Homo sapiens: one gene and its partners. The protein of the gene in region 1 purifies or fractionates together with the protein of each later gene. This does not show direct contact. Each region holds a gene or a part of one and is shown in the gene's direction. Other genes may lie near its edges. The genes, in order: TCF25, LIPA, AMD1, SLC25A25, STAM and XPNPEP3.

Region 1 (5,503 bases):
AGGGCTCTGTCTGGGCCCCGAGGAGGCCCACGGCGTGGGGTTGGGCAGCTTCTAGCACAGGCAGAAACGTGCCCCCCAGAGGGGCCTGGCCAGGCCTCAGTCTGCTCGCTGACCCCAAAAGTTTCGTCCCCTGTGTCTAAGAAGCACCTTTGTCCTCCTCTGGGGCTGCATGCAGCTGGCCATATGCTCCACCAGTGCAGCCGTGTCTGGAAACGCGGCTGGGAGGCCCTGTCCTTTGTGGCAGAGCTGTGCTGCTGTGTCACAGGCTGTAGCGTCAGCACCTCCCTTGAAGGCAGGTGGGCTGCCAAGAAGCCGCTGCCACTTACCCCAGAACACTGGAGATCACTGCAGGCTCTGCCCTCGGGGCCCGTTCCCCTACATGGCGGCCTCTGCCCTCAACCTGCAGTGCTGGCTCTTCCACTGGGCACAGGTGGCCTCCGCTCCCACCAGCCTGCCATGGGGTCCAGTCTTTGTGATTAAAACATCCAACCGGCCGGGCACGGTGGCTCACGCCTGTAATCCCAGCACTTTGGGAGGCCGAGGCAGGAGGATCGCTTGAGCATAGGAGTTCGAGACCAGCCTGGTCAACACGGTGAAACCCTTTCTCTACCAAAAATATAAAAATTAGCCGGGTGTGGTGGCGGACGCCTGTAATCCCAGCACTTTCGGAGGCTGAGGCAGGTGGATCACCTGAGGTCAAGAGTTCAAGACCAGCCTGGCCAGCATGGTGAAACCCTGTCTCTACTAAACATACAAAAATTAACCGGGGCGTGGTAGTGTGCGCCTGTGATCCCAGCTACTCGGGAGGCTGAGGCAGGAGAATCGCTTGAGCCTGGGAGGTGGAGGTTGCAGTGAGCCGAGATTTCGCCAACGCACTCCAGCCTGAGCAACAGAGTGAGACCCTGTCTCAGAAAAACAAAAAAAAACCCAACCCCATGTGTGTGGAGGGTGGTGGGTGAGTCTTCCCTTGGATGCAAATGGGGGCCCTGGCAGCCTCCTTGGGGCTGGTGTGAAGGAGACCCCCAGCCTCAGACCCTGGGCACGCCAGCAGCAGCAACTCAGAATACCACCCGGAAGCAAGCCGCTGGCCCTGCAGACTCTCCACCTTAGAACAGCTGTGTCTGTGACAAGGACCTCGCTGTGTCCCTTACTGCCTTGGGGGCTAGGAGTGGCTGGGGTGTGTGCTGAGGGCCCCCACAGAGCCTCCGCTTCCCCTGCAGTCCTCCTGCCCCTGCTCGAGTCTTGCAGTGTGCGGCCCGACGCCAGCGTTTCCAGTCACCGCTTCTTTGGACCCAATGCTGAAATAAGGTAAAGAGTGGCTGGTGGTGCCCATCTGTGGGTGCCTGTGGGTTCGGAGCCTGGGAGCCATTTTCACTCATCCTGAGAGGCCCTGAGGGACCTGCTTCCAGCAGCAGGAGGGGCTGTGGTGGCGGCCTCGGGGACTGTCATTTGACATGGGACGGCTCTGGAGCCCTCATCTGTGTGGAAAAGTCCAGGTGGGACAGCTGAGCAGCCTCCAGCTTAAAAACGAGGCTCATATAAAGAGGGTGCCAGGCGTGGCGGCACATGCCTGTAATCTCAGCTTTTTGGGAGGCCGGCTTGTGCCTGGGAGGTCAAAGGTACAGTGAGCTGTGTTTGTGCTGCTGCACTCCAGCCTGGGTGATGGTGAGACCCCGTCTCAAAAAACAAAATAAACAAAGAGGGAGCAAACACAGGAGAAAGTGCACGCCTTGGGGTCATCCCCTGGCCCTCCAGGGCTCGCCCTGTGTGCACGCAGATGGACCCGCCCTGGGTGCATTTTCACATTTCTGTGACGTCAGTCCTGCTTCCTAAAGAACATAACCTGCCCAACAGGCTCACGGCACATACCTGTGTGCCCCAGCCCCACGCCCTCAGGCCAGCAGCCCAGGGGCCTCCTTTCACTCCAGGCCACAGGGCACTCCCTGGACCCCCCGTCTGCCCATCCATGGGGCTCTGCCAGCCTCGAGGCAGGCTGTGGTCTGAAGAGGGGTTCTGCTCAGAGCCCTTGCTCTCCCCCAGCCAGCCCCCTGCCCTGAGCCAGCTGGTGAACCTGTACCTTGGGAGGTCACACTTTCTCTGGAAAGAGCCCGCCACCATGAGCTGGCTGGAGGAGAACGTCCACGAGGTTCTGCAAGCAGTGGACGCCGGGGACCCAGCCGTGGAAGCCTGTGAGAACCGGTGAGCTAGGGGTTGACACAAGCCCTGCCACGCCCCCTCCTCAGGGACCCTCATCCCAGACACGGGGGCCTCGCATTCGGGAGGCGAGAAGGGCTGTGAGCAGCTTGGCCTCCCTTGCTGTGGGGCCTGTGTGGAGCCTACAAGACAGCGCACAGCCCCTGGCGTGTCCCAGAGGCTTCCTGGGAGGCAGCTGTGGTGATCAGCGCAGGGTACCGAGCTGCTGTTCCCGGGTGCCTCGGGCTGGAGTGGTGCCTTCGGGTCTTGCAGTGTTTCCACATGAGCTGTGAGATGATGACGAGTCTCTCACAGCAGCATCTTGGGAGTAAAGAAATCTGGCAGAGACGAGAAAGAGTCTCCTGTCCTGTGTGTGAACACTTCGGAGGCTCATGCCCTAATATGCTGCAACTGACAGGCATCCCCTTGCTGTTCTTGTCTCGTTTGTCTGCGCCCTTGGCCCTGTGCTAGTTCTGTGCATCAGCACCGTGGCTCTGTGCAGTGGTGTGGCCAGGCTCAGGACCGCCTGGGAGTGGTGCCCATTTGCATCTCCACAGTGAAGTCTGTGTGCCGCGGACATGAGGTGTGCCCGGGGGTGCCCAAGAGGCGCTGGTGCCCCCAGCCGCTGGCAGTCATGGGCCCGTCCGCGTGTCTGCTGTCCCCACTGGACTGGACATTCTCATGGACAGGAGCATTTTGTTCCCTGTACTGCTCTCCAAGAGCGATTTCCAGCAGGGACCAGTGCCTGTGCCTGTAGCCGTAGCAGTGACGATGGTGACACACCCAGGTGTCCCTTCATGGAGATGAACTCAGTGACTTCCCACAAGAAGCCACTGGCTACGGCTCTCATCGTTCTTGTTCTTTGGATGAAGAGGCTGAGTCACTGGCCATGTGGCTGGGATTGGTCCCCAGAGGCTCCCCAGCCGCAGGCCAGGGACCAGCCATGGTGCCTCTGCTCGAGAGTAAAGTGTACAGTTTTTGCAGCCACCAGAGATGCAGCGAGATGCCTCGTGCTGGGTGGGGGTGGGGGCCGAGGCTCCATGGCGGTTACCATTTCATTTGCTGTGCTTTATCTGCTGTGCCTTGTTTCTCCCCGGCCCTAGGCGGAAGGTGCTCTACCAGCGTGCACCCAGGAATATCCACCGCCATGTGATCCTCTCTGAGATCAAGGAAGCCGTCGCTGCCCTGCCCCCGGTAAGGGAGAAAGGCTGAAATGGGAGCTCTGTGTAAGCCGGTCACATGCACGTCCCTTCTGCTCCGGGCGGTCCACATGCAGGCGTGCGTGGTGCGGGCTCCCTCAGCAGCCCAGCCCCGCCACGGCAGGGGCAGGGTCTAGTGCAGAGGGCTCCTCCTTTCCTGGCAGCCCGGGTTCGGATGCTTGTTGTTTTGAGAGAGAAATCCTTTGGGGCTCAGAGCACAAGCTGAGTCGTCACCGTGGTGAGCTGCTCCATCCGTGGTCTTGTGAGCGCGTGGTGCGGCTGCTGGGGGATTCTCTGTAGTCGTGGGGTGTAGTCCTGCTCTGACGCCTCCTGTGCTGGAGGTGCCGTTTCTGTCTCAAAACCTAAGGAGTTTGTACTGTTGTTAAGGGATAAGATAGAACGAGTGAGAAAACCAGCAAGTCAGAGGGTCGCAGGACCGTGGACCGTCCACTGGGGACAGCTTAGTGCCTCCTGGTTTAACTTCAGCTGCTCTGCGGGCCCTTATGACCGGCATGGCTGGCTTTGTCTGGGGCTGTGAGCTTCTGACTCTCCTCAGTAGAGTGGCAGCACGTGGCACTGTGCAACCCGAGGGCAGCTCAGGGTCCCTGTAGCCTGCATTTGCTGAAGTGGGAGCTTCTGACACGTGGTGAAGATGTTGGCAGGCTTGAGCGGCACGTGACCCCCTTCCTTCCCCACCACACACTCTGGTGTGCAGGGCAGACGCCGTGCAGGTTCATCTCGACTCCCGTGAGTGTCCTGGTGGCAGAAGGACTGTCCCACCCTCACCCAAAGCTCGTTGGTACAAAAAGCACAGCCGTTTCTGTCAGACTCTGTGGCTATCTCTCAGCAGATGCATCCAGTCCATGCTGGAGTCGACAGAAGGACTCTGCTGGGAGAGGTAGAGGCCCCCTGGCAGCATCTGTAGCATCTTCGTTTTATGTCCCTTTCTGAAGGACGTGACCACGCAGTCTGTGATGGGGTTTGATCCTCTGCCTCCTTCGGACACAATCTACTCCTACGTCAGGCCAGAGAGGTACCTCCCTCCTTCCAGTTCCCACCTCCCAGCTCCCACCTCCCTCCTCCCAGTTCCCAGCTCCCAGCTCCCACCTCCCAGCTCCAACCTTCCAGCTCCCAGCTCCCACCTAGCAGCTCCCGGCTCCTGGCTCCCACCTCCCTCCTCCCACCTCCCACCTCCCAGCTCCCACCTCCCTCCTCCCACCTCCCACCTCCCTCCTCCCAGTTCCTACCTCCCATCTCCCAGCTCCCAGCTGCCACCTCCCAGCTTCTGCCTCCCTCCTCCCAGTTCCCACCTCCCAGCTCCCACCTCCCAGCTCCCGCCTCCCTCATCCTAGTTCCCACCTCCCAGCTCCCAGCTCCCTCCTCCCACCTCCCACCTCCCTCCTTTCACCTCCCACCTGCCACCTCCCGCCTCCCACCTTCCAGCTCCCGCCTCCCACCTTCCAGCTCCCGCCTCCCTCCTCCCAGTTCCCACCTCCCACCTCCCAGCTCCCACCTCCCAACTCCCTCCTCCCACCTCCCACCTCACCTCCCTCCTCCCTCCTTCCAATTCCCACCTCCCAGCTCCCAGTTCCCACCTCCCAGCTCCCGCCTCCCACCTCCCAGCTCCTGCCTCCCTCCTCCCAGTTCCCAGCTCCCACCTCCCTCCTCCCGCCGCCTAGCTCCCACCTCCCAGCTCCCGCCTCCCACCTCCCAGCTACCGCCTCCCTCCTCCCAGTTCCCAGCTCCCACCTCCTACCTCCCAGCTCCCGCCTCCCACCTTACAGCCCCTGTCTCCTCCCTCCTCCCAGTTCCCAGCTCCCAGCTCCCGCCTCCCTCCTCTCACCTCCCCTGCCACCTCCTGCCTCCCTCCTCCCAGCTCCCACCTTCCAGCTCCCGCCTCCCTCCTCCAAGTTCCCACCTTCCAACCCCGCCTCCCTCCTCTCAGTTCCCACCTCCCAGCTCCCACCTCCCAGCTCCCTCTTCCCTCCTCCCAGTTCCCACCTCCCAGCTTCCTCCTCCCACCTTCTAGTTCCCACTTCTTTCCTCACAGTTCCCACCTCCCAGCTCCCATCTTCCAGCTCCCAGCTCCCACCTCCCTCCTTCCAGTTTCC
Region 2 (5,503 bases), on another chromosome or scaffold:
AATGTTTTGAGCATTAAATAGATGGCTTTTGCTATTTAAAAATTATTTAATTTTTTTGAATTCACATAATCTAAAAATCAGAGAATTAGAAGACATACAGTGAAATGCCTCCCTTCTCTCTCACTCCCTACTTCCTGCTTTTTTGTGTATCTTTTTGAAATAACTTCATTTTAAAATCTTTTTATTTCCAAAAATCTCATTAGAAACAAATACACACACAGATTCTTATTTTTCCCTTGCCTCCATTTGAATGCAAAAGATGGCACTATTTTGTTCTTTGAATTTTTTACTTAATATCTTGGAGATCTTTCCATACAATACATAAAGCACATCTTCCAGAAGTGCATGATATTTCACTATATGACTGTATCATTATTTATTTACCAAGTGTCCTATTAATGCATATTTGTGCTATTTCAGTCTTCTGTTAACAAATATTGCTGCTGTAAATAAGCTTTTGTGTGTGCAAGTTTATTTACATGATACATGTCCAGAAGTAGAATTTTTGGATCACAGGATATATGCATTTGTGATTTTGATATATATTGCCAAGCTGATTTTCATGTGCATGTGTCCTGATAATTACTATCACTATGAATATATGAAAGTTCTTGTAGCTTTGGCTTAAAAAGTATATATATACATATATATGTATATCTTTTTTCTCTCTCTCATTTTATAACTCAAGCAAAACTGCAGTTTCCAGTGCAGATAAAGGAATTTCTAGACAGACTGATTGAAATTATTAAGCAGTTATCAGAAGAAGGATCTAATCTTTATTCAATTATCTCTCCAGATGTAGCTTATTTATTTATTTATTTTTTTGAGACGGATTTTCGGTCTTGTTGCCCAGGCTGGAATGCAATGGTGCAATCTTGGCTCACTGCAACCTCCGCCTCCCAGGTTCAAGTAAGATGTAGCTTATTCTCTAACATTTTTTTGTTTCTGGAGACTTTTCTTGGGGAAATTAAGGTTTAGATTAAGGTAGTTAGATAGCTATTTATTCTTCAATTTAAGTGTTATACGGGCAAAAGAGCCACCTTTGCCTCAATTCCTGCCCAAATTGTTATTCAAAGCAAACTTAAACACCCTTTGTGTTAATGTGAGCATTGTATTATTATTTGCTTTGTTTTTTCTTAATTTATCCTAGTTTAACTTTTTTCTTCCATGTGTTCTAGCTGTAATAAGATTTTAATAATGTTTAGGTGGCCACGACAACCATTTTTTTTGAAATTTGATTTCTAACTCTTGAGATTTTTATGCTTTACAGATATATGCCATTAAGCTTCCTTTTTATAAATATGTTATAAAATGAGTGATGAGTTATAGTGAGAGCTTTTAGTTTTTCCTGTGCTCAAAACACTCAAAACATATATTTTATGCTAGAGCGAGCATATGATCTTGGTTTCCTTCCTTTTTTTTCCCCCAAAGAATAACCCCTGTATACTGATTTCAGACACTGTATAAAGAAAAATGCTTTATATTATTTTTCTTAAAATTATAGTTGATTAATTAGTAACGTGAATCACTGTTAAATGATGGTAAGCATCTCAGTAAAACTTGCTGAGAGCTCTCCTCCTATATCCAGCTTCAGACTTCTCTCTCCATACAGTGGTTAAAACACTCAGAGTCACATGCCCTACCTGTGTGTATCACACTGTTGCAGGGGAAGGTGCAGTGCCCTGGAATATGAAGAAAGTGAGCATGAGTCTTGATATGCTCCCAGGTAATAGAAAGGAGACTTATGGGACCTTGGTGCTACACCTGGGTTTGCCCCTGACTTCTTGTGTGCTTTGTTTTTTCTTTTTTTTTTTTAACCTCTGTGGGATATATTATATATACTTTATTTTATTTTTGGCAAGAGGGTTGGGGATTGGGAGAGTGGAGAGTCTAGGTCTTTAGAATGGGGGAATATAGACTGAAAGTATTTACTCTAAGCTAAATCTGTTCATAGCATTTGGTCCTCATGTTCTTTCTCTATTCTGAGAGGCCCTCCCTGTAGGGGATCACTGATGTGTATGTCATACCTGCTATGAGCTAACCTCAGTGGGGAGTCTTCAAGGAAGTCTACAGTGAACAACTCAGTTCTCTAAAGGAATTGTGATTTTCCTAAGAACTGCATAGGCGCTTTCCTGATGGTTTGCATTTCCACATTCTAAAACAGAGCATGGACAGAGGCTCTTTACTGTCCTTCACTCCTATTCAAGAGCAAGGTTGTTGCCACTGGTGTTATTTCCGGTGTTTAAAGGCAAATAGATAAAAAGAATGGAGAAGGCCTTTCACACCCAAAGTGAAACGCGTCCTCTTCTCATGCATCCCGCTTCCCCTCCTGACTTCCTCCTCTATTATTAATAGCACCAGCATCCTCCTAATGACCTAGCCTGGAATCTGCAGAATCATTCTTGACCACGGGTCCTCTCTAGGCCACCCACGTTAAATTGCTTCAGTTCATCTTTTTCTTCTGTTTCCCTGACCACCAGCCTACATTAGGCTCTTGTTACCACTTAACTGGGCGCCTGAAATAAGCTCAGCAGCTGAGAGAGTCTTGAGCCATTTCCATTTTCAAGGCTCCTCGTATACTAACAGAAAGAAAGAATTTCAAGACAGGATTATGGAAATTCAGTTTGCTTATATAGTTTAAGAAATTAATGCTTTTAATACACACAAAAATACTGCTATACATTCATACTATTTACAAGTAATTACAAAATGTATTAAAACATTATTCATTTTTTGGTACCACATTCCTTGTGGAACCTGAGTCTACAGCTGAATGGTGAGCATCTTTCAGTCCTGTTGCCATGGGCCTCTTTGACTGACTGTGTAGCCTCACTTGGAGATCAGGTTTTTTTTATGAACACAGGGCTTGGCCACATGGCTTCTCTGCTCATGTTTGCTTAAAGGCTTTACCTAACTGCTCTTTTCTCTGCCAGGCTTCCTGTTCTCATTCATCCTATGTGGTTTTGCAGGATTAAGTTTCTTAAAGCTTAGCTATAATGATGTGAAATTGCCATTCAGCAATCTTTAGGGGTCTCAGAAATGAAGATACACACTGTTCCTTAAATATTCTGTCCAGCTGGTATTTGTACCTTTCACCTCCATTCTGCACAGTAGTAGCCCTTGGCTACTCGTGCAGTATGTGCATGCTGTTTCCCACCATTAAGCAACCTTCTTAGGAAGTGTTGAGCAATGCTTTGCTCCTGAAGGGAATTGAAATTCAGAAATTACACTTCATAGGGAAGTGGCTCTGTTTTCATCTGCTCAGCCTTATTTCAGAAAGTCATGGGGAGTTAGCACTGGAGGGATCTCAGATTCCTGCCTGGGCTAGGGATTTTTGTTTTTTTTTAAACACACTTCACTGGTGGATTCCAAGGTAGAATTCTTGGTTTTGGCAACCTGTGTTCTAGACTAACATCCTCATTTTGTTGGATAAGACAGCCAGGTTCAAATAGGGAAATGAATTTGTCTCAGGGCAGAGGGTCATGTCCTGACCTGTCTGACTACAGATTCAGTGATCTTTGAACTGGAGAATGTGGCCTTACATAATAAATATTAACCAAGTTGATGCCATGATAGGCACAATATATATTTTATATATATATACACACACCAAGAGTGGCACATTTGTATCTGAAAGTTATGCATCTGATTGCCGAGTGGGTGAAGTGGCACTCTAGACTGTGAAAGCCTGGAATGACTGCCTTCAGCATGCAGAAACAGGCTTTTCAACTGTGGCCTCAGCAAAGATTCCCCAGGGGTTGTCCATTGAGCTATTAGAGTCATAGCTGAAAATTCACAGCGTGGCTTGTGAGTTAAGTCTTTAGAAGGAGACCATCAGCTTGTATTTTGCTTTGATTGTTTATTTTAGAATTCTGGTTGATTTCTAGATTTTTCTTTCCTTATAGAAAAATCCTTCACTTCTAAAGAAACTATTTTTTGAATCACTGCAGTGCTCTAACGGGCTACACATAGGCGTTGGTAATCTGGGATGTAATTCCTCACCCCTGGTGGTGCCGAACAGACATGGTTTCATTAATCAATGCCTGAGCTTGGTGACTTGGGCTGAGCTCAGGCTCATGTAGCACTCTGATGGCGCATTGGGTAGGGGATTGCATTCAGAACCTTTGCCTAATGGAGCAGCATAAGTGAGGTCAGCTGTACAGCTTATCTCATAGACCCAGGTTGGGATCAGAGCAGAAAGCCAAGTGGAAAGGAAGATAGTGCTCTGCCCTGTCCCCTTCCCTCCTCTTCCTCCTGGTTAACCGCTCTGACCTGTCCTCTGTTCTCAACCTAATTTTCACATCTTCAGGGAGGATTTCCTCAGCCTCTCACACCAGGTCAGGCCCCTGGCTACATATTCTTATAGTCCTCTGTGTTTTTCTCCATCGCAATTAAGACAATAAACAATATATTATTATGTAGGTGATGATGTGTGTGACCTCTGTCATCCCCACCAGACTCTGCGGGGATGAAGACTTTTCTGATTCTCTTTACTTGGTAAATTGCTTTAGCTCCAGGCTGCAGTCTACCCAAGCATGCTCCTGCAGCCCTCCTGTGACATTGCGATTTAATAGTGTCCCCTGCTCAAGGGCACACTGCATGAAGGATTTCCTACTCCTGGGCTCCTAGGAGTCCACGAACACAACTTAAATGCTTCCTGTGGTGGGTAAAACTTGAAGCTGTATTGCCTCATGATTAAGCTGAGCATGTGAAGAGCCACCAGTCATGGGTGTAAGTTCTGGCTCTACTATTTAACTGGCTGTGTGACCTTGGCAATTTTCTTTACCTCTTGAAGTTTTGACTTATTCAATTATTAAACAGGAAGAATAATACTGGCTACTTCGTAGGCTGTTGTGAAAATTTGATAAGGCCTGTGAAATATATGCAGTATAGTAAGTGCAGGTGATACAATTTCTTTTACAACATTTATTTATTTAAAATATTAATGAATAAATACATAAATATTTTAAAAGTCTCACCGTGTCTCCCAGGCTAGAATGCAGTGGTACAATCATAGCTTACTACAGCTTCAAATGATCCTCCCTCAGCCTCCCAAAGGGCTGGGATAACAGGCATGAACCATGGTGCCCAGCCTCTGTTTTTAATTTTGAAATGTCAACATGGATTTGATGGTGGTCTCTGATATTGACTTCTTCAGGATTAAGCCCTCCATGACAGGGATGTATTCTAAACTGTGTGGACAGGAGGAAGATGCATTTGTTTACAATGGACAGAAGTAAGAAAAGTAAGAAATGTCATAGAACTATGTCTGGGGGTCAGGTGACAAGCACTGTGTCATTTCTAGCCCTGTGTCCCCTGCAGGTGCTTTCTTCTGTGGACCCTCTGCTCCTTCTGTTGAGGGAGAATTTTGGATGAGAGCTGGATAATTTCCCAAAATTCGCTCAACTGTGAAGCTCTGGAACTCAAGTTGCTGTGCTGCAAAGCTGTCTGAGGACAGGCCGTGGTGGCAGAGAGGGGCAGGGAAGACAGGCAATTTGGCATG
Region 3 (5,503 bases), on another chromosome or scaffold:
ACCGCCTTGGCCTCCCAAAGTGCTGGGATTACAGGCGTGAACCACCACGCCTGGCCTAAAAAATATTTCTGGCAAACAGCTGGGCATGGTGGCACATGCCTGTGGTTCTAGCTACCTGAGAGACTAAGGCAAGAGAATTGCTTGAGCCTGGGAGGTCAAGGCCGAAGTGAGCTGTGATTGCACCACTGCACTTCAACCTGGGCGACAGAGTGAGACCCTGTCTCAAAAAATAATATCTGTCATGTTAAGCTGTTCCATGGAATTACATTGTCTTTTTATAATGGGCACACTAATGAAAGAATGAACACTTTCCTAATTCTATTCTCAGGCAAATTAAGACTAGTTTCTTCATGTCCATATGACCTTCATTGCTATGGTTGCTTGTACTGCACATTTCCTGTTAAACGGGCTTTCTCATTGCATTTGGAGAGCTGCGTAGTATTCCCAAAATCTTCTAGGTATGCTTGTAATTGGCAGTCATTCCAGTTTTTTGTGAGTGCTATAAGAGTAACATCACTCACTGTGTCCCGACAGACAGGCTTTTAAATTTCTATGCCAATTAGATTGGTAAAATTATGCTCTTCTTTTTTTTTAAGTGTTTCTTAAGGTTAAAAATCTGCACATTTTATAGACAAAGTATCCCATTGAATTTCTGTAATCATTGATTAGTTAATGGTTTACCTTGGTTTATGGACCTTTGAACATTTTTTTGCCTATTTTTCTTTAAGTAATTTGTAAATACATAGTATAATGACCAATTTTTGTTTCATATATAGCATAATATACCTATCATTTATCTGGGTGTGTCAATATAGATTATTTTGAAAGAAACTAAAAGTTGGTGTACAATATTAATTAAAAATGTGGTCTTCATGAGAAAAAGTGTGAGCTTTGTAATTTTTATGAGTAGGTGGGTACTATTGTGGATTAATCGTAACTTTTTTGTTAAATGATAGATCTGAGTGGGACATACTTTTGAAGGATGTGCAATGTTCAATCATAAGTGTGACAAAAACTGACAAGCAGGAAGCTTATGTACTCAGGTAAGTCCTGTAAAACAAGTGTTAGGTAGCTAATTTCAGTCCTAATCATAATGTGAAACAGTTAAGTTCCTCTCAGTTGTAGTTCTGGGGGTTTTTTTGTTTTGTTTTGTTTTTTTGAGACGGAGTTTCAGTCACCCAGGCTGGAGTGCAATGGCGCCATGTCAGCTCACTGCAACCTCCGCCTCCTTGGTTCAAGCAATTCTCCGGCCTAAGCCTCCTGAGGAGCTGGGATTACAGGCACCTTCCATCATGCCCGGCTAATTTTTGTATTTTTAGTAGAGACGGGGTTTCACCATGTTGGCCAGGCTGGTCTTGAACTCCTGACCTCAGGTGATCCATCCACCTCGGCCTCCCAAAGTGCTGGGATTATACACGTGAGCCACCGCGCCCAGCCTTTTTTTTACATTATTCTTAAAAATATGGTATAAAAGGAAACATTTAGTGTAACGTGGATGTTTCTAGGACATAGGTTTTGAAGCCTCACCGGACAGTTCAAGGTGTTTGCCGTCTTTTCCTCCCAATTGGTAAAGAAGGACCTCTTAATTAGAAGTTCAGGCAAAGGGAAAGTTAGCTTCTCTATACAAATACAGTTGTCTAATTGGTATATAAAAGCTCATCACCTTTTTTGTAGTTGCAGAGTTAATTTATTCCATAAATACTTTTAATGCTTATAGTATATATTGTGATGGGCCTTGCTGGGGGATACTGGACTAAACAGCCCCTCCCCCCCTTTTTTTTTCTGAGGCGGAGTCTCAGTCTGTCCAGGCTGGAGTGCATTGGCGCAATCTCCTCTCACTGCAACCTCTGCCGCCCAGGTTCAAGCGATTTTCTTGCCTCAGCCTCCCAAGTAGCTGGTATTACAGGCGCCTGCCACTGTGCCCGGCTAATTTTTGTATTTTTAGTAGAGACGGGGTTTCATCATCTTGGCCAGGCTGGTCTTGAACTCCTGACGTGGTGATCCACCTCGGCCGCCTAAAGTGCTGGGATTACAGGTGTGAGCCACTGTGCCTGGCCTCTCTCTTTTTTTTTTTTAAACTAAGTTTATATTATGAATATACGAATGTTTATCAAAATGCTTACCATGTGCCAAGCCCTGGGGATGTTTTGTATACTAGAAAAGGAAAAGAATAATGTGTTACTTGCTTCCTTGAGATCCTAATATTTAAAAGTACTAGCCAAAATTGTAAATGATAATTAAATTGGTTGATTGCACCCTCAGTAGTACATTAGTATTGTTATAATATTGTGACTTTTTTCAACTGCAGTGAGAGTAGCATGTTTGTCTCCAAGAGACGTTTCATTTTGAAGACATGTGGTACCACCCTCTTGCTGAAAGCACTGGTTCCCCTGTTGAAGCTTGCTAGGGATTACAGTGGGTTTGACTCAATTCAAGTAAGTAAGCAAACATTTAAATATTTTTCAGGCATAAATGTTAGCGTTCTTATCCTGTAATATGCGAAGTAAATAAATTTATATACTTACTGCCTTTGTTACAATGCATGCAAACACGTGGTAAGGTGTTCATACCTTAGGAAGAGATCTGATTCTCAAGAACAGCAGAAAATAGGAAGCAGAGAATGAGTTAGGATGAAATTCAAATGGGAGAAAGAAATGAAGAAGCCAGACACTTCCAGTAGTTAATTTCTTAACATGGCTACTTATAATAATAGAGAAATGGTAAGAAAAGAAGGAAAAGCAAGAAAAATGTCGTTACTGAAATTGTCCAGTCTTTATAATGAAGAGTTAGGATGAAGAGCAACAGTCAGTATTGAGTTAAATTCTTATACTTTTCAAGAACTAAGGTGTTTTTACCTAGGGTATAATTTTCTGATTAGCAGTTGTTACATTTTATTTATTTTTTATTTTTTTGAGATGGAGTTTCGCTCTTGTTTCCCAGGCTGGAATGCAATAGCACGATCTCAGCTCACTGCAATCTGCACCTCCCAGGTTCAAGTGATTCTCCTGCCTCAGCCTCCCAAGTAGCTGGGATCACAGGTGCCCACCACCATGCCTGGCTAATTTTTTTTGTATTTTTAGTAGAGACGGTGTTTCACCATGTTGGCCAGGCTGGTCTCTTAACTCCTGACCTCAGGTGTTCCACCCACCTCAGTCTCCTAAAGTGCTGGGATTGCAGGCGTGAGCCACTGCACCCGGCCTGAATTTTAATCTTTAACTTCATAAGGAAAGGATGGATTGTCATTAGTACTCAATACAGTTTTTGTTGTTATGAATTGATCCTTGTAAGAAATCTAAAGCAATGTGTGCTTAACCGATGCTTAAAACTAATATGTTATTCCCCCCAAATTTTTGCTTATATGACTATTAATAAGCTCAGTTTAGAAACTACTGTTCTAGAAAGGAATATACTTGGTGTTAATAGTTGTTATGACCCATCATCACTAGACTGGGCTTTTTAAAAAAAAGAGAGAGAGAGAGAGATGGGGCCTCAGTATGTTGCCCAGGCTGGACTCCTGGGCCAAGTGATCCTCCTGCCTCCTAATAGCGAGACTACAGGCATATGCTACCATGCCAAGCTAAAATATTTGAGTTTTGATTTTGCCGAGTTTTTGATATGTGGACAATAGTTGATTAGCTTCGAAAAGTGATAGAATTCTACATCTAAAGTCATCTTTTTTTTTCTTTCTTTTCTTTTTTAATAAAGAGCTTCTTTTATTCTCGTAAGAATTTCATGAAGCCTTCTCACCAAGGGTACCCACACCGGAATTTCCAGGAAGAAATAGAGTTTCTTAATGCAATTTTCCCAAGTAAGTTTAAATAAAATATAAACCTGTTGTCTTCTTAAAGATAGAAAGTGCAACCTCAGAGATCTTTCTATATGAGAGCATACTTATGCATATATAGCATTCTACACACACTAATACTTGCTTTTCTTGTGGGTTTTTTGGTTTGTTTTAGACAGGGGTCTCATTCTGTCACCCATGCTGGTGCAGTGGTGTGATCACAGCTCACTGCAGCCTCAACATCCCAGGCTTAAGTGATCCTCCCACCTTAGCCTCCCAAGTAGCTGGGGCTACAGATGTTTGCCACCCCACCTGGCTAATTTTTTTTTAATTTTTAGTAAAGACAAGGTTTTGCCATATTGCCCAGGCCGGTCTTGAACGCCTGGGCTCAAGGGATCCACCTGCCTTGGCCTCCCAAAGTGCTAGGATTACAAGTGTGAGTTACTGCACCTGGTCCATATTTACTTTGACTTAGATGTTTTGGGAGTACAGTAGTGATCTTTATATAGCTTGTAATTCAAAATATGCAGAATTTATAAAGAACATTAAAATATCAGATAAAATATTTTTAGTTAAGATTAATAGCTTATTGCAAATTATGTATACACATGTAAAAATAATTGTGTATCATAAATCAGTGCTGTTTAAATGATGGAATTTTAAAATGTAGAATTGATCACCTGCCACCTCTGATTTTTCATACAGCATAGAGAGAGTTCATCTTCATCTGGCCATTCACTCTACTTTATGTCTCACTCAGTGGTTCTTTTTGCGTTTTTGTTTGAGACAAGTTTCACTTTGTCTCCCAGGCTGGAGAGCAGTGGCATCATTATAGCTCACTGCATTGTCAAACTCTTGAGTTCAAGCACCCAGCTAATTTTTATTTTATTTTTAGTAGAGATGGAATCTTGCTGTGTTGCCCAGGCTGGTCTTGAACTCCTGCCCTCTAGCAGTCCTCCAGCCTCAGTGGTTCTTAACATACAGATCATAATGTCCTTTGACAATATGAAGAAGGATATGATTCCCTTCAGAAAAATGCCTAGTGCTCTGCTCCAGCATTTTATATAATAATTGACCTGGCTTTTTAAAATTGCACAGTGTAAATTAGTGTTTCTTGAATGAAATTCGTAAGGGTTTCTTTCATCCATTTACTAAGCTTTTATTTATAGAGGTCAGGGAACAAAGGTTATCTGATAACATCCTTACTTCCTAGATAAGGCTGAAAACCTAAGATAATTTAGTAACTTTGCACAAAGTCGCTCATAAGCATGAAAATTGAACTTAGCACATCTACTAATATGAAACCAAACCAGGCTAATCAGAGTGTTGGGTATTTACTGCAAATACCCGCCAAGTCAGTCGATCCTGCTTATCTGGGAATTTACCTACTGTTTCCATTCCTTTCACTGATGACATTTCTTTTTTCTTGAGATGGCGTCTCGCTTTGTCACCCAGGCTGGAGTGGAGTGGCGTGATCTTGGCTCACTGCAACCTCCGCCTCCCGGGTTCAAGCAGTTCTCCTGCCTCAGCCTCCCAAGTAGCTGGGATTATAGGCATGTGCCAACACGCCCAGCTACTTTTTGTATTTTTAGTAGCGATGGGGTTTCATCATGTTGGCCAGGCTCGAACTCTTGACCTCAAGCCCACCTCTGCCTCCCTGCCAAAAGGGGTGGGATTATAGACATGAGCTACTATGCCCAGTCCACTGATGGATGACAT
Region 4 (3,500 bases), on another chromosome or scaffold:
ATATGAGGCTGGCCATGATGGCACTTTATGAGGCTGAGGTGGACAGATGGCTTGAACCTAGGAGTTCGAGACAAGCCTGGGCAACTTGGTGAAACCCTGTCTCTACAAAAAATACAAAAATTGGCTGGGCACAGTGGGTCACACCTGTAATCTCAGCACTTTGGGAGGCTGAGGTGGGCAGATCACTTGAAGTCAGGAGTTCGAGACCAGCCTGGCCAACATAGTGAAACCCCGTCTCTACTAAAAATACAAAACTTAGCCAGGCATGGTGGCGTATGCCTTTCTGTAGTCCCAGCTACTCAAGAGGCTGAGGGAAAATTGCTTGAACCCGGGCAGCGGAGGCTGCAGTGAGCCAAGATCACGCCACTGCACTCCAGCCTTGGAGACAGAGTGAGATTCCATCTCAACAACAACAACAACAACAAAATTAGCTGGGCATGGTGGCCCATGCCTGTAGTCTAGCTACTCGGGAGGCTGGGGCAGGAGGATCGCTTGAGTCTGGGAGGCTGAGGTTGCAGTGAGCAGAGACTGTGCCACTGCACTTCAGCCTGGGCAACAGAACAAGACCCTGTCTCAAAATAGATATAAATAGAGAATGAGAGAGCACGAGCCTGTCTGATCTGGAGCTTCAACTAGATGAATTTTTTTGATGTTCAAAGAGTTATTACTGGCCAGATGCAGTGGTTCACACCTGTAATCCTAGTACTTTGGGAGGCCAAGATGGGTGGATCGCTTGAGCTCAGGAGTTCAAGACCAGCCTGGGCAACATAGCGAGACCCCCATCTCTGTTTTTTATAAAATAAAAAAAAGAAAAGAAAAGAAAATGGGGGCCAAGTGTGGCGACTTACACCTATAATCTCAGCACTTTGGGAGGCTGAGGCAGGCAGATTGCCTGAGGTCAGGAGTTCGAGACTAGCCTGGCCAACATGGTGAAACCTCATCTCTACTAAAAATACAAAAACACTAGCCAGGCGTTGTGGTGTGCACCAGTAATCCCAGCTACTCGGGAGGCTGAGGCAGGAGAATCACTTGAATCCAGGAGGCGGAGGTTGCAGTGAGCCGAGATCGCGCCACTGCACTCCAGCCTGGGTGACAGTGCGAGACTCTGTCTCAAAAAGAAAAAAAACAAAAAAGAGTTATTACTTGTTGAAGTCTCACATCCCCACAAGGGAATGATAGAAACAAATATTTTGCTGGTATTCATTTCTTCATTTCTATTCCAGCTGAGTCTTGAATTCCTGGGCTCAAGCGATCCTCTTATCTCGGCTTCCCAAAGTGCTGGGATTACAGACCTAAGCCACTGTACCCAGCCAACTTTTTATTTTATTTTATTTTATTTTATTATGCCTGTGACACAGCCTCAGGGGTCTTGATGACATGTGCCTGGCAGCCAACTTTTTATTATTTATTTATTATTTGAAACAGAATCTTGTTCTGTCACCCAGGCTGGCGTTCAGTGGTTCAATCACAGCTCACCGCAGCTTTGACCTCCCAGACTCAATCTATCCTCCCACTCAGCCTCCCAGGTAGCTGGGATTACAGGTGTGCACCACCATGCCCAGCTAATTTTTGTATTTTTTGTAGAGACGGGGTTTTCCTATGTTGCTCAGGCTGGTCTCGAACTCCTGAACGCATGTGATCCTCTCGCCTTGGCCTCCCAAAGTGTTAGGATTACAGGCATGAGCCACCACGCCCAGCCTAACTTTTTTTTTATTTTTATTTTTATTTTTATTTTTATTTTTATTTTTTTTTGAGACAGAGTCTCTCTCTCTCGCCCAGGCTGGAGTGCAGTGGCGTGATCTCAGCTCACTACAAGCTCTGCCTCCTGGGTTCACGCCATTCTCCTGCCTCAGCCTCCCCAGTAGTTGGGACTACAGGCGCCCACCACCACGCCCAGCTAATTTTTGTTGTATTTTTTAGTAGAGACAGGTTTTCACCATGTTAGCCAGGATGGTCTCGATCTCCTGACCTCGTGATCCACCCGCCTCAGCCTCCCGAAGTGCTGGGATTACAGGCGTGAGCCACCACACCCGGCCCTAACTTTTTGTTTTTAACCATTAATTATACTAATGCGAATTTGGCAGAACCATAGAATTTAGTCTTGGATGGGTGACGGGCCATCATGGTCACTAGCCAGCCTTCCACCCAACATGGAGATAAGCTCTCCGGAAGCATCCTTCGCAGATGGTCATCCGCCCTTTCTATTGTGAACCTAATTGGAGTCACTGTGAGTTCTCTGTCATGTTAGACTGAAATCTTGTATCTGCTGCTGCCCATTGCCCCATGTGTACCTTCAGGAGCAAGACAGAAAAGTGATCCAAGGGCCCTTTATCTGAAATCTGTGGTCTTATCTTCCTATAATCTCTGCTGCTGCTAAAAACAGGTATCATCATGCACTTCTCAGGTGACGTGCTGTCCATACCTTACAGTTCCCTTAGCTGAGACAATAACCCATGGGGTTTATAGTACAGACTTTCCTCGGAAATGTTACGCTGATTGAAAGAAGCCAGTCGCGGCCGGGCGCGGTGGCTCACGCCTGTAATCCCAGCACTTTGGGAGGCCAAGTCGGGTGGATCACGAGGTCAGGGGATCGATACCACGGTGAAACCCCGTCTCTACTAAAAATACAAAAAAAATTAGCCGGGCGCGGTGGCGGGCGCCTGTGGTCCCAGCAACTCGGGAGGCTGAGGCAGGAGAATGGCGTGAACCCGGGAGGCGGAGCTTGCAGTGAGCCGAGATCGCGCCACTGCACTCCAGCCTGGGCGACAGAGCAAGACTCCGTCTTAAAAAAAAAAAAAGCCAGTCGCAAAGATCATGCACTGTATGATCCATTTAGGTGAAAGTCCAGAATGGAGAAGTCTACAGAGACAGAAAATTGAGTAGTACTTGCCTACCTGGGAGTGGGGTACTGGCGGGTAGAGAGATAGGAAGGTGAGATGAGGTTTCTTTTTGAGGTGTTGGAAATATTCTCAAGTTGACTGGAGTGATGGTTGCACATATCCGTGAAGATACTGAGAACCACTGAACTGTATACTTTAAATGGGTGGCTCATGCCTGTAATCCCAGCACTTTGGGAGGCTGGTCAGGAGTTCGAGACCAGCCTGGCCAACATGTAGAAACCCCAGCTCTACTAAAAATACAAAAATTAGCCGAGCATGGTGGCACACATCTGTAATCCCAGCTACTCGGGAGGCTGAGGCAGGAAAATTGCTTGAACCTGGGAGTTGGAGGTTGCAGTGAACCGAGACTGCGCCACTGCACTCCAGTCTGGTCAACAGAGTGAGACTCTGTCTCAAAAAAAAAAAAAAGGGTGATTTGTATGGTATGAGACCTGGGTTCAAATGTTCCTTCTGCTGCTTGCTAGCTGAGTGACCTTGAACAAATGACTCACCCTCTCCAAGTCTGTTTCCTTATCAGAAACTTGTTGGTATGAGGACCTACTGCATAAGGGGGGTGTGTGGGTTAAATTAGATAAAGCATAGAAAGAGCCCAGGACTGGG
Region 5 (5,503 bases), on another chromosome or scaffold:
TCTGTTTTTCTTTATAGTAGCCATCCTGATGGGTGTGAGGTGGTATTGAGATCGTCTTTTTTTTTTTTTTTTTTAATGTAGGTGCTTATAGGTATAAATTACCTTCTCACCGTTTTACTACACCCTTAAGTTTTCTTGGGTTATGTTTTCCTTTTCATTAATCTCAAAGTATTTTCTAATTTCCCCTGTGATTTTTTTCATTGACCCATTGGCTATTTAGGAGGATGTTGATTTTCACGTATTTTAATTTTCTATATTTCTTTGTTCTTTCAGATTTTATTCTGTCTTTGGAGAACATGCTTTCTATGATTTTTTATCTTTTTAAATCTGTAGAGACTTGTTTTATGGCTTAACATTGTTTATCATGTGTAATATCCATATGCCCTTGAGAATAATATATTGTATTATTTCTAGTTCAAATAATTTATAGATGTTGATAATGTATTGTGTTATTAGAGGAAAATATATGTCATTTTAATCTGATGATTTAATATTTTGAGGCTATCCTTTTGACTTATATAAAGAGCTCCCTGTTTATGTTATCTGAATTTATTGGGAGGCATATCTGTGTCCAGAACATAGCATGTTTAAGTGACAGGTATGAATCTTGTTAGTGCCTATTACTGCCTGGTAACTGGCATCATGGGCAAGGAACTGAACTTCAGTAAATGGAGGACTTGGTTTGCTGTGAATGTTTTGAACACTGAATGAGTCCTTTGCTTATTATATAATTTTTGAGAGCCTAAGCACATGATGTTTCGTAGGTTATATGAATGATTACTCTGCTTTACTATTATCATTAATTACCATAAAGCATCCCCATGAAATGCATGTTTGCTACATTCTTGGCCTGTCATTTAAATAGATCTGTTTTTACTGACCTGTGATTTATCTACAACAAAGAGCATCCCTTGTATGTGTATGGTTTGATAGTTTGATGAGTTTTGACAAATATATATACCTATATAAGTATCACCCCAACCAAGATAGCATTTAATCACTCCCAAAAGTTCCTTCCACCTTATGCAAGTACTAATATGCATTGTCACTATAGATTAAATTTCCTTTTCTAGAATTTCATAAAATGAAATAGTATTGTCAGTACTCCTGTGTCTAGCACTAAATGTGTTTCTAAGATGAATTCAAATTTTTGTATGTATCAATATTCCTGTTTCTTGGGGAAGAGGTATTACATTGTGTTAATATATTACAATTTATCCATTCATCTGTTGATGGGCATTTGGATTGTATCCAGGTTTTGACTCTGAACAGAGCCTCTGTGAACATTCTTATAAAGAGTACTGGGTAGTATGCTTTCATTTTCATGTCCTTAAGGGAAATTATGGTTCTGTGATTTCATTTGTTGTAAGCCTTAGATATTTGTTATTTGATTTCCAAATATTTGGGTATTTTTATGCTATCATTTTGTTATCAATTTGTAGTTTAATTTTGTTATGGTCAAAGAATGTACTTTGTATGACTTTAGTCCTTTTAAATTTATCAGTGTTTGTTTTATAGGACAGAATGTAGTCCATTTTGTTGAATTTTCCATGCACATGAAAAAAAATGTGTATAATGCCATGGGTGGGTGGATTGTTGTGTAATGCCAGTCAGGTCAAGTTTCATGATAGTGTCATTCAGGTATTCCATATCAGTACTTTTTTTTCTTGTGTTATCAAGTCATTGAGGGGGCATGTTGAAGTTTCCAGTAGATTTGTCTGTGTTTCCTTTCGGCTGTATCGATGTTTCCTTTATATATTTTGAAGTTCTATTTTTGTGTTCATGCACATTTAGAATTATGTTTCCTTGGGGGACTTAACCGTTTTATTATTATGTACTGTCTCTCTTTATCCCTGTTAGTATTCCTTGTTATGAAAACTGCTAACGGTAGTGAATAGATAAAAGTGTAGTTGGATTACAATCTTAATCTGCCATTTTTCTAGATGATTGGTTATGTTTCTTCTGTTTTCTCTTTCTGTCTTTTGTGTATCAATCAAATGGTTTTTATGGTTTTATTTTTTTGATTTAAAACTTTGTTTTGAGACAGGGTCTCACTCTGTCTCTCAGGATGGAGTACGGTGGTGCCATCACAGCTCACTGCATCCTCGACCTCTGGGGCTCAAGTGAACCTCCCACCTCAGGCCATTCACTGCGCCCATAGGAGCTGGGACCATTTCTGGCTAATTTTTGTATTATTTTTTGTAGAGATAGGGTTTCACAGTGTTGCCCAGGCTGGTCCCAAACTTCCGGACTCAAGCCATCTGCCCACCTCGGCCTCCCAAAATGCTGGAATTATAGGTGTGAGCTGCTGCACCCAAGCTATTTTATTTTCATTTTTCTCTTAAAAATATTTGTAGTGGTGGCTCTGTGTTAAATTTTTTCATTTTTTTTCTCTCTGTACTTCAGTTTGGGTACTTTCAGCATATTTTCAAATTTACTGATCTTTCATTCTTACCTGATTAATTCCATCCACTTTTTAATTTTACATATTTTTTTGTCTCTAGACTTTTATCTGGGCCCTTTTTAATATATTTCTTCATCATTATGTGGATGATTTCCAGCATGCTTATAATAGCTTATATAAAGTCCTTGACTGCTAATTTCATCATCTTTGTTATTTCTGCATTCTCAGTTGACTGAATTTTCTGCTAGTTGTGTATGGTAGTTTTCTTCTTCATATCATGTCTTCATATCATTTTATTGAATGCTTAGTACTTTGAATTTTATATTTTTGAGCATCAGGTGTTGTATTCCTGTTAAGGAGTATTGGACTTTATTTTTTCAGAAGTGGTTACATTCGTCTGTGGCTTATGTTGTTAGGCAGTATGTAGGTATGATTGAGCTGCATTGCTAGGGTCTAAACTCCCCTGTATATCCACTGAATCCTCTGGATTTTCAATAGATGCTTCACTGTGGCCTCATCTCTGACGACTGTGTGAGCGTTGGATCTCTTTAGCATATCGCCCTCGGTCACTTTTTGACCAGTTTCATGGAGTTTTTCACCTGTGCATGCGTGGGTTTTTCAGAAGGTCTTCACTGATACTTGGAAAGTGCCTCTAGGCAGAAAGTTGAGGCAAACTTCTGGCTTATCTAATTCATTTTCCTTCTTGGATATTATCATTCAGTACTGCCTGTGGCCTCATGTCTTTAAAAAGTTAACCTCAGTGTGGAAAATCTGTTTTTCCAGTTTTCTAATTGTTTACAACGGGAGTGTAAGTCTGGTCTGTTTTTCCACCCTGGCTGGAAGTGGAAGTCATGGCCTACCATTTTATTTTCAAACCTTTTTTTTTTTCCTACCCAGAATTAGCCTGAAATGCCTCATCTACGATTACTAATAAGAGAGCCTGTTAATTTTGTTTGAAAAATTTAAAGGAACTAGTTTACAGTTTTTCAACCGTGTTATTAATAAAAATTAAATTTCCCTACTTTATCATAGTCTCCCTTTTTATCGTAGTCTTTTGTCTATAACAGTTAAGGGGCAGGGGGAAGCTAGATGTATTATTAAGTAATTTTTACTTTTCTCATTTTTTTAGACCTAAGGATTGTCTTCGGTCTATTATGAGAAGAGTGAACCACAAAGATCCTCACGTTGCTATGCAGGCTTTGACTGTGAGTGGTTTCATTTTAATCTGTACCACGAAATTACCTGCCACAATTGAGCCCCTTTAACTTCTGATTTTGTGCTTTTAGCTTCTAGGAGCATGTGTATCAAACTGTGGCAAAATTTTTCATTTAGAAGTATGTTCAAGAGATTTTGCTAGTGAAGTAAGCAACGTATTAAATAAGGTAAGGAGCATTATTTCCAGAAATTAATTAAGGCAGTCTTCTTTCTTCACATATTTTATTGTTTAAATCTTCACAGAGGACTATTCTGTGCTTTTTAAGAAATCCTTTCTAGGCTGTGTCTATCCAGTATATAAATAAATATTATGTTTTGTTGAAGAGACTGCGGATTCATGTAACTTTGAGTTAGTTTTTTCAAGCCATATTAGAGTGTTTTTAACCTGTTCTTTTCCATCATACTTTCATCTGATAAGAAAACAGGTATTTCTATATCTAATTAAATAATATCAGTCTATTTTACATACTGTTTTTGTAGGCACAAGGTATTTTCCTAATGGAAAACCTTTCAGAAACACTGCAAAAAGTCTATGGCACCGTTGAGTTTTTATCTTTATCAATAAGGCTGCTTCCTGGCCATCACAGGATTTTAATACTATACTGCTATTCTTACTGGCTGAACCCACAGCTGGAGTTGCCTCAAAAGTGGTGGCGGGGGAGTTTCCACAAGGGACTGCCCCAAACTGTTCCAGATAGGGCCAGATGAGAGTCCAAAAAAAGAGGCACTAAATGCCAGGGTGATCAGTCTAAAGGATTTATTAGGGGAACTTACACAGGAGGGCTGCAGTTTATAGGAGGGTTTAAGGAATTTGGCTCAGGGTTGGGGCTGGTTTCTGTGTGTTTAGCAACATACTTGATCTTTTAGTGTTTTGGGCCACAACCTGAACAACTTTATCAGTGCCTGAGAATGTTCAAGGCCCCAGTTTGGGTCCAAACCTATGGTGGAAAACATGCAGCTGGCTAGGTCACAGAGCGGGACAAGGCACTCTGTTTTTCTATTGGGACACAGAAAGAAAGCAGGGAGAACTGGGGACCCTACAACTGCCCACTCAACTGTAGAATTCTAGTCACACAGTTCAAGAAATTTTTCAATTTTCAATTAGTAATATGTGAGTTTCCCCAGTAAAAATTTGTGCATTCTAAAAGTAATTATTTTTGGCCTTTTTAGGGGGAGTACTGTAAATCAAGAAAAAGTTTTTGTATGTTAAAAGGGAAAATGCCTCATGTTTTTGGGAAAAATGAATAGTTCCAGGTTACAGTAGAAAAATAGCAGTATAGAAATATAGTAAGAATGTAAAATTCTGTACTTTTCGAACATCATGGTTAAATGATAATTCTTTCCCTTTCCTGCTTTATGCAGTTAATATTTATTTTCTACTAATTAATAAACATTGTCTTTTAATGTCCTGAATGTCCATCGAGATTACAACTGTTTATGAAGAGATTCTAATACCATGTTTTTTGTAATGTAGGTGAAAAATGTGGTATACTTACCTATGTATAATAGTGCAAGCAGCCATTTCCAAAAACGACTTCCTATAGGCAAGAGGACTTCTCTTTATTTTCTGAATGTTTTACAGTGAACATATTGGTTTTGTACTTAATAACATCCCGCCTTTTTTTTTTTTTTTTGAGACAGTGTCTCTCTTTGTCACCCAGGCTGGAGTACAGTGGCGTGATCTCAGCTGACTATAGCCTCTGCCTCCCGGGTTCAAGTGATTCTCCTGCCTCAGCCTCCTGAGTAGCTGGGAATACAGGCATGCGCCACCACGCCTGGCTGGTTTTTGTAGTGTTAGCAGAGATGGGGTTTCACCATGGGGATGGTCAGGCCAGTCTCGAACTCCTGACCTTGTGATTGCCCACCTCGGCCTTCCAAAGTGCT
Region 6 (5,503 bases), on another chromosome or scaffold:
AGCTGATAGGAAATCAAGTTGGGAAAAAAGCTGGTGGCTGGCTCGTGGAGGGCCTTGTATATTATGTTAAGCAAACAATTAGCTTTTTCCTTTAGATGGTGGGAAAACTTTGAGGAATTTTAAGCTATTGAGTAAGATGATTAAATCTAAATTTTTGGTTTTCTGTTAAGAGTGAAGAAATGGACTACAGGGCATGTCATTACATTCTTAAATTTTCTGAGACACTGATTTTTGCTTTAGTTTTTGGAAAATTGCAATTTTTTTTTCAACTTTACTACCACATGCATGATAACAGATAAACTCTACTAAATATCACATCTTATATTAGAAGCATTTAAAATACCCTGGGCTTTTATTATTTTATTTTCTGAAAATAAACTTTGAATACTAATTGTCCGCAGTCTCTTCTATAGAATAAATAACCTTTCCTTCTCCCATCTGCCCACTAAAAATCAAATACCGATACAAAACACAAGCTCTTGACTATAGCTGTCTTTTAAAAATAGCAGATATTATAATTTTTTTCTAATTTCGCATTTGTATTTGGCCAAAGTTGAATAAGTTTTAGTGCTGCTAGATGTAACTCAAACCATTTGCTCGATATCTGATGTATTTGTAACCCATCTATTTTTCTCCCAACATGACTAAATTAAAATGGCTATAGGTGCTATTTTAGAGTAATGTATTTGTAGATTTTGTGTACAAACTCTAAACAAAAATAGAAAATTTCCTGTCTGGAGTGATTCACTGATGGCCTACCATACAGACTGCTCTGAGGAATTCAGGATAAGACTGGCCTTTAAAAAAAATGTGGTAAAATATACTACATAAAATTTACCATGTTACCCGTTTTTTAATTTTTTAAATTTTCTATAGTTTTTCTTTAGAGACAGGGTCACACTCTCAGCTGGAGTGCAATGGCAAGATCATAGCTCCCTACAACCTCAAACTCCTGGGCTCAAGCAATCCTCCCACCTCAGCCTCCTAAGTAGCTAGGCCTACAGGCACGTACCACCACACCCAGCTAAATTTTTAAAAAAGTTTTTTCATAGAGGACAGGTCTCATTATGTTACCCGGACTGTCGTGAAATTCTGACTTCAACCCTCCTGCCTGGGCCTCCCAAGATGCTAGGATTACAGGTGTGAGCCACTGCACCCAGCTAAGTCTATTTCTAACTTAAAATACTTTATACTTTAATTTTTAATTTGTAGTACCTTTAAGTTATAATGCATCAAATGCTGTTCCTCCATTGGAAAACAGCCATTTCATGAATAATTGTGTAGTCTGAACCTGTGTGTCTTGATACATTCTTGTCTTCTAATGCTATGCATGTTTCGTAAGTTTGTATAGTGGTTTTAATTAGAAAAAAGAAAAATAGGCTATAAACTCTACTAAAGAAAAATTCAAAAGTAAAAAACTCATTGCAGTTTTCCAAATTCCTTTTTTTTTTTTTTAAGACAGGGTCTTACTTTGTCACCCAAGCTGGAGTGCAGTGGCGTGATCCCATTACACTGCAACCTATGTCTTCCAGGCTCAAGCAGTCTTTCTACCAGCTTCCCGAGTAGCTGGGACTACAGGTGCACACCACCACACTTGGCTAATTTTTAAATTTTTTGTAGAGAAAAGATCTCACTATACTGCCCAGGCAAATTCTTATTAGCACCAACTGTCACCACAAACTCATCCTTTTCTGACATACCCATTCAAAAAAACTACTAACCAAATGTCCACAATCCTGCTAAAAGTGTTGAAAAGCTCTTAGTATAGTATTAAGTGTTATCTACAAAATTTGTGATTAACCAAAACACACACAATTGTGTTCAAATGTTATATATTTGAAGAGTCAATTTAACAATTCCTTTTGGTAGACTTCTTTTGCACCTCTTTACGCTTCTTTTTTTTCCTCTTACCACCCTCTTTGACTCCTGCTGAGAAAATAGGGGGATCTCTGTTGCTGGTAACCCAAGATATACCTCCCTCATCATTGTCCACGAAAGTATATTGAGATACATGTTTGGAGCTGTGAGAATTTGGTGAATAGTTGTTGAATGACTGTGTTCTCCAGCTGCATTCTTTTGCAAAGCCCTCTTCATTGGCCACACTATTTACAAGAAAAAATGTCAACTCTCCATTATCTTCAGCTTCTCTTTCTTGATCACTTTCAATAATTTTCTTTGTATTAATATTTCTGCCATTAACGATTTTGTCTGAAGTTGTAACAGATATGTAGTTGTCCATCCCACTATTATCAAAAGCCAGGGAAGAGAAAGAAGTAAGGCCTTCATGCCCCAATGAACCCTGTGATGTATATCCTGTATCATATGAAGAAAATTTCTCAAAAATTGGATATTCACTGGCAGTGGAGAAAAAGTATCCTGCATCTCTGTTTCTGTTTCCATAGGAGCTTCCTGGACGATTTAACAGGTCCTCAAGCGAGTCTTCAAAGAAGTGAAAAGAAAATGGATCCCTTTCATGAAAAATTTCTTTAAAAACATCATCTGGCTTATGGAATGTGAAGCCGTACTCACATTCATCATCAAAATGACTTCCACCTCCGTTTAATCCTTCTGTGCCATATTTATCATAAATGTCCCGTTTCTCATCATTTGATAATACCTCGTATGCCTCAGCTACTTCTTTGAATTTTCTCTCTGCTTCTTCTTTATTTTCTGGATTTTTATCAGGGTGCCATTTAAGTGCCACTTTATGATAAGCTTTTTTAATGTCCTCAGGTGAAGCATATCTTTGCAGTCCTAGAACTTCATAGTAATCCACCATGTTTTAACAGATAGTTGGAAGTGGGTGTGCTGGGTATTGAGAACCGTGGTTTCCTCAGCTCAGGCTCTGCTGGTGGTGGTGATAGAGGTAGTGACTGCAAATAGGTACACTTTTATGTTAAAGACAATGTTATTACCATGTGCTAAGAGATGAGGATACTGATTATGTGGCAAGCAGAGTTACAAATATGTCAGAGAGGGCTGCATTATGGTGTCATTCTGGGGTCAGTGTAGGGACTGGACCTTCCAAATAGAGCTAGTCCAGAGTCGTACCAGACCATCCTGAATCCTCTGGACTGTTTCCCCTGTATGTTTCCCTGGAAGCTTCAGGCAGTGCCTCATAAGCCAATGGAATCTGTTGCTAATAGCCACAGCATATCCCTTGCATAATATGACCTCTAGATTACTGCGCCTTAATTGCTTCCCAGCTCTTCTATGCTTTGGTTTAGAAAAATGAAGTACTGACTTACGGGTGAAGAAAGTATTCAAACAGTTGACATATTTATTTCAGTCAAGAAACAGTTCAGAGGGAGATACAAACAAGTAACTTAGTTACAATATAATAGTTATGATGAGAGGAAGTACTGGATGCTAAACAATTATATGAGAGACAGCTCAGGCTGGGGGTGTCAATGAAAGCCTCTTGGAGGAAGTAGCCTGATATGTTAACTTTCTGCATGCCAGTGGTAAGTCATTTGAGATTATAGTATCTTTGTCCACCCAAGGTTTACTGCTGTAAAACATGTAATTAAAGATTTGGAAAGTTGTGTGTTTATGTATTCACTGTATAATTATTGATTGTCTACTTTGTGCCAGGCACCGTTTTAGCCACTGGTGATAGCAGTATTGAACAAAAGACACCAGTTTTCCTGGTGCTTGCATTATAATAGAATACAAATAGGAGAACAAATAAAATAATTTAAGATAATGCGATATGTGCTCCAAAAAAAATAGCAATGTGCTGGGGGCAGAGCGCTACTTTAGATTGGTTTTAGAAGGCTTCTGAGGAGATGACATTATTGCTGAGACCTATATGACAGTCAGCCACATAGTGATCTAATATGGTAGCCACTGGCCATGTTGATGGACATTTTGGTTGTTGCCAGTTGGGGCTGTTGGACATAAAGCTAGCACTTATTTCAAGTACAGTGGGAAGCCTTTGTGGGGAGTGGGGAATATGCAAGTTTAATGATGTGATTTACATTTGTAATGGATCAGTGGCTACTATTTGGAAATTCAGTCATGTATGGGAAAGTAGAATTCGAGAGCCAAATTAGAAACAGACCAAAGGTGATTTTCTTTGGGGATAAACTACCAGTAGTCTAGACCCGAATTTAAAGGTCTTATATTCTATACCTGGCTCATTTTATTGTCTGAGAAAATTCCCTGTAATCTTTGTTTTTCCTCCTCTATGTTGTGTTTATTTTATTTTCCATCACATTTATAACCCCTCAGTTAAATGATACGCTAATGAAATCTAAAACTGTAGTGTATGCTTCTAGTCTTTCAAGACCATTTGTCAGGTCTGAATATTTTTTTGCTTTGCATTTTTATATATACTCATTTTTTAGAGGTATTGTGAAATGCTTAAAACTCAATTTAAATTCTCTCCAGTGTATGTGCTTACATGTACTTATGTGTGGCTTACCCATGATTATAATTTGCCTACCACTGGAAATAATAACCAATAATGTCGAAAATTATTTGAGTACCCTCTGAGTCACACTGTAGCAAGTGCTCATTTAACTGACACAGCACTCTAGCAAAATAAATATTTTATGCCCATAAGAAAACAGACGTTCTGAGAGAGAAAGTAATTTGTCTAAGGCTACATAGCTTGTTAGTGAAAAATCTGATTTTTAAACTTGAGTCTAATTTCAAGTTCTCATTCCACTCTACTGCATTTCTCGGACTAGGACTTAAAGAGTTTAGGTTCTAGGCATTCCACAAACAGATACTGAGAACCTGCTGTTACCGGAAAGGGGTCCCAATCCAGACCCCAAGAGATGGTTCTTGGATCTCGTGCAAGAAAGAATTTCAGTGGAATCCACAGAGTAAAGTAAAAGCAAGTTTATTAAGAAAGTAAAGGAATAAAGAATGGCTACTCCATAGGCAGAGCAGCCCCAAGGGCTGCTGGTTGCCCATTTTTATGGTTATTTCTTGATTATATCCTAAACAGGAAGTGGATTATTCATGCTTCCCCATTTCAGACCATATAGGGTAACTTCCTGACGTTGCCATGGCATCTGTAAACTCTTGGGGTGCTGGTGGGAGTGTAGCAGTGAGGACAATCAGAGGTTACTGTCATTGCCATCTTAGTTTTAGTGGGGTTTGGCCAGCTCCTTTTTTTAAGAACATCACAGGTAAAGCTCACAGGAAGGTGACAGTCTAGGAGAAGATGTTCGCAGTGTCTAAATTTGACAGGGACTTATTTTATTTTCATTATTATTGTTACTATTATTATTATTTGAGGTGGAGTTTCGCTCTTATTGCCCAGGCTGGAGTGCAATGGTGGGGTCTTGGCTCACTGCAACATCTACCTCCCGGGTTCAAGCCATTCTCCTGCCTCAGCCCGCTGAGTAGCTGGGATTACAGGCATGCACCACCACGCCCGGCTAATTTTGTATTTTTAGTAGAGAGGGGGTTTCTCCATGTTGGTCAGGCTGATCTCGAACTCCCAACCTCAGGTGATCTGCCCGCCTCAGCCTCCCAAAGCGCTGGGATT

Evidence for each region.
Region 2: the proteins of TCF25 (region 1) and LIPA purify together in Homo sapiens (affinity purification with mass spectrometry; one large-scale study listed by BioGRID and IntAct). This does not show direct contact.
Region 3: the proteins of TCF25 (region 1) and AMD1 purify together in Homo sapiens (affinity purification with mass spectrometry; one large-scale study listed by BioGRID and IntAct). This does not show direct contact.
Region 4: the proteins of TCF25 (region 1) and SLC25A25 purify together in Homo sapiens (co-immunoprecipitation; one large-scale study listed by IntAct). This does not show direct contact.
Region 5: the proteins of TCF25 (region 1) and STAM purify together in Homo sapiens (affinity purification with mass spectrometry; one large-scale study listed by BioGRID and IntAct). This does not show direct contact.
Region 6: the proteins of TCF25 (region 1) and XPNPEP3 purify together in Homo sapiens (affinity purification with mass spectrometry; one large-scale study listed by BioGRID and IntAct). This does not show direct contact.

What each region holds. Positions count from the first base shown.
Region 1 is NC_000016.10:89,902,898-89,908,400, forward strand, and holds part of TCF25 (ribosome quality control complex subunit TCF25), read left to right. Parts: intron 1-1,220; coding exon 1,221-1,308; intron 1,309-2,040; coding exon 2,041-2,199; intron 2,200-3,296; coding exon 3,297-3,387; intron 3,388-4,345; coding exon 4,346-4,425; intron 4,426-5,503. UniProt on the Homo sapiens protein: Component of the ribosome quality control complex (RQC), a ribosome-associated complex that mediates ubiquitination and extraction of incompletely synthesized nascent chains for proteasomal degradation.
Region 2 is NC_000010.11:89,239,905-89,245,407, reverse strand, and holds part of LIPA (lysosomal acid lipase/cholesteryl ester hydrolase isoform 1 precursor), read left to right. Parts: intron 1-5,503. UniProt on the Homo sapiens protein: Catalyzes the deacylation of cholesteryl ester core lipids of endocytosed low density lipoproteins to generate free fatty acids and cholesterol.
Region 3 is NC_000006.12:110,886,549-110,892,051, forward strand, and holds part of AMD1 (S-adenosylmethionine decarboxylase proenzyme), read left to right. Parts: intron 1-956; coding exon 957-1,043; intron 1,044-1,787; exon of another isoform or gene 1,788-1,858; intron 1,859-2,308; coding exon 2,309-2,435; intron 2,436-3,705; coding exon 3,706-3,808; intron 3,809-5,503.
Region 4 is NC_000009.12:128,074,732-128,078,231, forward strand, and holds part of SLC25A25 (mitochondrial adenyl nucleotide antiporter SLC25A25), read left to right. Parts: intron 1-3,500. UniProt on the Homo sapiens protein: Electroneutral antiporter that most probably mediates the transport of adenyl nucleotides through the inner mitochondrial membrane.
Region 5 is NC_000010.11:17,681,142-17,686,644, forward strand, and holds part of STAM (signal transducing adapter molecule 1), read left to right. Parts: intron 1-3,533; coding exon 3,534-3,609; intron 3,610-3,690; coding exon 3,691-3,786; intron 3,787-5,503. UniProt on the Homo sapiens protein: Involved in intracellular signal transduction mediated by cytokines and growth factors. Upon IL-2 and GM-CSL stimulation, it plays a role in signaling leading to DNA synthesis and MYC induction. May also play a role in T-cell development.
Region 6 is NC_000022.11:40,859,216-40,864,718, forward strand, and holds part of XPNPEP3 (xaa-Pro aminopeptidase 3), read left to right. Parts: intron 1-333; exon of another isoform or gene 334-1,462; coding exon of another isoform or gene 1,463-1,566; exon of another isoform or gene 1,567-1,849; coding exon of another isoform or gene 1,850-2,779; exon of another isoform or gene 2,780-3,557; intron 3,558-5,503. Other genes in the region: DNAJB7 (dnaJ homolog subfamily B member 7), read right to left, coding at 1,850-2,779. UniProt on the Homo sapiens protein: Catalyzes the removal of a penultimate prolyl residue from the N-termini of peptides, such as Leu-Pro-Ala. Also shows low activity towards peptides with Ala or Ser at the P1 position.